2 separate regions of the Homo sapiens genome follow, and region 2 is linked to region 1. The links come from fine-mapping of genetic effects on gene expression. Tissue or cell type: liver. Region 1 holds a variant in brackets; the other region holds the start of a gene. All regions are shown on one strand. Distances are between the middles of the regions.

Region 1 (2,688 bases):
ACACAGCCTGGCTTCCCAGCGCCCTCTCCTCTAGTGTTTGGCTGCCCAGGAGCCACAGCACAAGGAGGTAGCAAGGTCGCTAAAGCACATGTTCAGCAAGCTTGACCATGAGTTCTAGACTAGAAAAGAGGCAAATAAATAAATAAAAGGCAAGAAAGAAGCCAACTGACAACAAGGGAGAAGTTTTAGAGGCTAAAGCCATAAATGAGGTAAGCCATGGCAGGAGGGCTCTGAATACCCACTTTCTTTCCTGAAACACCTTCCTGTACCAATCATCACCATACGTCCTTATGAGTTTTGACTACCCCGAACACGCTCTTCTCTTCCTTCCCTTCTACTTAAATGCCCTTCCCATCCTTTAAGTTTCAACTCAAGTCCTACTCACTCCATGAGGTTCTCCTACTTGTTTTTAGATTTTCTGCACTCCTTCTCTGAACTCCTTCAGAACATTTTTCTAGGACACTTAAATTATTTCAGAATTATAGTCTTATGTTGTATCCTTTGTATAGATCTCATTTACCTGTGAGAATGCAACCTCTCTAAGGATAAGAACTGGGCTTCCCTAACATGGTCAAACGCTACTTTAACCCAAACATGCTTAACTTTTTTAAGTGTTGGTTAGTTATCCAGTAAATAAATGACATTACTACCATAAACTTATTTTGAGACTATTTGGTGAACTTTGTCAGATTTTTGATGTTTGAGAATTTGCAATATGCGTCCCAGTCACCCATGAAATGTTTAAAATATCTGTCAAATAATTCTTATTTCCAATATTATCTCTATAAACCATTTGCCCCTAATAAAATATTCATGGGAGCAGGGATCCCAAGCATTCATTTGCACAGTTATTAAACTATGACAGAATCAAAAGAACCAAGATTTTCTTCAGATGTTTTACATTTTCTTGGATTAAAAAATTGAATAAATTTGTATTATCTTTTAATACGGTGACCAGCATCTTGCAATAAATAAATACTATGTGTTAGGTTATGATGAAGAAAAATTAGTGTATTGTACAGAGGGAATTTCTTCATGGACCATAATGGCCGCCAAGAGGTCAACTCTGCCTCTAAGGAGCTGGTGGCCTTTCTCCCTCCGTTTCCCTGTGCGATGATGCAAGGGAGGACTTGCAGCTTCACAGTGCAGAGCAGTTGGAGCCCTGAGCCGTCCCGTTGCACCGCCGCTCTGTGGCCTTCCGCTAGTGGGCGCCGCTGAGCGGACTTCGGCGCTTCTGCCTCAGCACTCCAGAGCCCCACAGCCTGCGTCAATTTCCAATCCTGACTGACGCATGTGGGGCTGAAATGGCCAGGATTGTGAAAGTCGGTGGAATAATTCGATTCCATCAGCTATTCTAAAGGTCTGCCCTGGCCCTCTGGTTTTGAGTCATGCCCACACTAGAAGTTTGCAGTTTTGCCACCATGGCCTGTTGCCATTGAAACAAAGTTCATCCTTGGTGGAAAATGCTGATCTTCATAGAGCACTGCTGTCTTTTTTATTAGGATGGTTAATCCCTTCCTACATGTTCAGGGCGGGTACGGGCCTCCC[T/A]GGGCTTCTGGACTAATTTTCACACGCAAAAGCTTAGAGATGACTTGGGTGGTAGAAGTTCAGAGCGGGGAGAAAGCTTAGGAATCGTTCTAGTCAAATCCTCTTCTTTTACAGAAGAAAGTCCAGTCCAGAAAGAAGGGATTGGTCCCGTAGCCATCCAGCCCCTCAGTGACTTAGGCAGGGTTGAAACTCGTAGATAACTGACAGGCAGAGGTAGCACCAAAAAGGGACCCTCAACCAGAGGTTCCCAGCACCTTTCATTACCTTAACTGTGCTCTGGGAGCCTTCAGTGCTGTGGATGGGGTGTGGATTGCAGCCTGCCTTAGTCTGCTTTTGTGTAAGCCTTTATTGGCTGCTCAGTATGGGTCAAGCAGTGGACGAAGCTCTCATAGCATGTATGTCTCACTTAATCCGAGGCCGTGCCATCTGGTGCTACAGAGACAGGATCTGGAGCCAGCAGACCTGGACTCAAGTCCCAGCTCCACTTCTCAAGAGCCACAAGGATTTGGGCAAGTAACATCCCCTTCCCACACCTCCCTTTCCTCTGCTGAAATTGGAGACCATAGTAGAATCTCCCATTGGGTGAGATAAAGCATATAAACCACTTAGCACAGAACCTGCCTGATAGGAAGTACCTCAGGAATGTTAGCTTTTGTTTTTTTTATCAGTCTTACGCACTAGTTGTCTTCATGTTGATATTCATAGGAGCCAGCTAAATGTTCTATTTCACATCTATTATGTAAATGTACTATTAAAAGTGTATGCAGCTATAGATGTGTTAGTAACTGCATCGTAATCACCTCTATACAAATAATGTTTTTGTGAGATGAATGCATAAACCAAAATATTTTACAAATTATTTGTAAAAAAAAAAGTCTATGATATTCTTCAAAAACAGATTATTTTCTCGTGATGACTCTCTTTGCCTCCAAATTTTAAAGTGTGGGCCAGGCGCAGTGGCTCACACCTGTAATCCCAGCATTTTGGGACGCTGAGGTGGGTGGATCACTTGAGGCCAGGAGTTCGAGACCAGCCTGGCCAACATGGTGAAACCTCATCTCTATTAAAAATACAAAAATTATCTGGGTGTGGTGGCGGGTACCTGTAATCCCAGCTACTCTGGAGGCTGAGGCAGGAGAA
Region 2 (2,688 bases), 23 kb before region 1:
TTCACCATGTTGGTCAGGACGGTCTTGATCTCTTGACCTCGTGATCTGCCTGCCTCAGCCTCCCAAAGTGCAGGGATTACAGGCGTGAGCCACTGCGCCCAGCTGAATGTGTTTCTTTATAAGCATTGGCCTCCATCATTATACTTTGCTTCAGATCCATTAGTAAATGGTATAAGTTGTGCTTTTCTATTTTTCTTTGCTCATTATCTGCCATGGGGATCATTATTTTTAGATTAAGCAAAAATAATAAAATAGCATGGCTCAGAAAATAATTTTAGAAATTGTAATTTTGAAATGGTTAGTTCCACTAATCAAATCCAAGCAAATGTTTGAATTAAAGGAGAAACGAACTCTGTACTAGCCAAGTTTGTTTAACACTAGATAAATCTCTCATAGTTGCCAACATGGAAGAGGGAGATTCTTAAAAATAATCTGAAATGTCAAACCAATTTAGCCTAGACTGAGATTAGGGGTGAAGGTAGGAGAAGGAGTAGAACCAATTATATGAAAAATTATGAAACGTGGAGGAGGGGCTGCTTTCTCAGCAGACTTGGTGCAAACTTTGTTTCAGGCACAATTTGTTTCTTTACTATAGTAAGCACTTAATAAATGTTCAATGGAATTAAATGTCCTGGATTTCCAGTGTTAACATTCACAGAGAGATACAGTGAGCACACTCAACCTTGCACTTTGAAACAAACAAGCAAAAGCGAGAGCCTGGTAATTTGACTATTGATTTTATTTAAAGACATTTTACTCTTCATTAATACCTATCCTGTGAAGAGAACCTACAGAATATGGCCATTAAGCCTCTTCTTTAAAATACTTTTAAAAGGTGGGTTTCAAAAGTTTTATGCCTTGGAGCCAAGCTCCAAATCAACACCTTGATCAAGATATAATCCCATCACTTTGGCAACTAATATTTATCCTTGGGAATTGAGGCAAATATCAGACAGTGTAGTAATTTATTCACTTTTTCCTCCTTCGGTGAGTATTAAGGGAGCCATCCCTTTGTCTTAATCCATACCAGTCTCTGTATTAGTATCTGTATCAGAATTTGATTTTGATCAAAATCAGAATCAAATATTTATATCAACTTTTTATTATCTAGTTTTGTTCTAGTTAAGTCCCAGACCCAGACTCAGACTGAAAGGCTTTGTAATGTCTTCTCAACCCACTATTATGTTTCCCTCATTAAAGAACCGGAACATTCCATTTAAATTACTTAAAACATCCTCAGGACCATGTGTCATTCCTATTTCATTTTTAATAGCCAAATACACAAGTCTTTGTTGTGATCATGCTATTAATGACTTTTTAATCTTTTTAGTCTTCCCCTGAAATCAGTTTTTAAAAGTTAATCAATATTCTAAAATTGCACTTTCGACTTACCGGTAGAAATCAGACCAGCCAAAAGGAGGGCTTTGGTGGAAAACATCTGGTTTTACTTCCTTTAGTTTCTTCCTCTGATTAGAGTTGCCCCCACACTCTCTTTGAAGAATATTCAAGTTTGAATGAATACTTCCTAGCTATTTAGCCTTAGAATTCTGCATCTCTCATTTCTTTAGTGTGAGACACAAAAAGTTTAAGAGGATGGAGCAAGTCAAGTTCTAATATTCCATGGATAGCTATTTGATTTGCAGGTAGGGCCTATGTAAAAGCCTTTGATCTGAAGAAGAAGCCAATTATATTGGAAATACTGACTAAATATTAACAGAAAATGATAAGGCTAGGTGCATATCGACAGTCTTCTGGGCTGTGGCTTGTAGGAGAATGTTCGTGCGAATGATGGAATATTTAGTGCTGCCTGCTGGTAGATCTTTCTTTTATTTCCTTGATAGCACATATTTCAGAAGAAAATTGGTCATTAATAATGTGTAGCCCTTCATAACATATTCCTTAATATATCCCTTAGGTGTTTTTGAATTCTCAGTTTAATTATATTTCACCTGTGTAATATTTGCAAATAACTTTAATATTTTAATAAAATTGCATGTATTCACCTTAAATATGTGATTTTTAAATGTTTTCTTGTTTATGATAATGGTAAGTTAACACCATTAAAAGCATCCATCAATAAAGGAAAAAAGATTAATTATAATATAGTCATTGATATGGTTTGGATCTGTGTCCCCACCCAAATCTCATGTTCAATTGTAATCCCCAGTGTTGGAGGTGGGGCCTGGTGAGAGGTGATTGAATTATGGGGCTAGAGTGCTCATGAATGGGTTGGCATCATCCCCTTAGTGCTGTTGTCCTGATAGTGAGTGAGTGAGTTATGGTGAGATCCGGTTGTTTAAAAGTGTGTAGCACCTCCCCTGTTCTCACTTCCTCCTGCTTCAGCCGTGTAAGACATGCCTGCTTGCCCTTTGCCTTCCGCCATGATTTTCAGTTTCCTGAGACGTCCCAAGAAGCTACCATGCTTTCTGTACCTCTTTTCTTTATAAATTACCCAATCTCAGGTATTTCTTTATAGCAATGCAAGAACAGAATAATACAGTCATACAACAGAGTAAAATATAACAATTTAAATGAAGACAATCTACATGTATTAACACAGCTAGATCTCTAGATATACTGTTGAATTAAAAAGCTATTTTTAGAATTATATATATAGTATCATACTATTTATAATATGTAAAATCTGAAAACAAGTATATTAATCTTAATGAATGCTGTATGTATAAT

Direction of the effects. Alleles are on the strand shown, and positions count from the first base shown. SD is a standard deviation of normalised expression in the study named.
For the expression in liver of the gene that starts at base 1,588 in region 2, A is the low allele of the variant in region 1 and T is the other (small effect, 0.24 SD a copy in GTEx).

Evidence for each region. PIP is the estimated chance that this variant, and not a neighbour inherited with it, causes the effect.
Region 2: it holds the start of LECT2, and the variant in region 1 is fine-mapped to the expression of LECT2 in liver (GTEx, PIP above 0.99). The same link has a PIP of 0.9 or more in caudate.

What each region holds. Positions count from the first base shown.
Region 1 is chr5:135,976,396-135,979,083 of GRCh38, forward strand. No RefSeq gene overlaps it. Among named protein-coding and RNA genes, the nearest start is that of LECT2, 23 kb to the left of the region's middle. The variant T/A (reference allele first, on the strand shown) is at 1,549.
Region 2 is chr5:135,953,396-135,956,083 of GRCh38, forward strand. It overlaps LECT2 (leukocyte cell derived chemotaxin 2), which reads right to left and starts at 1,588. Exons shown (of 4, transcript NM_002302.3): 1 at 1,393-1,588. The coding sequence starts at 1,438.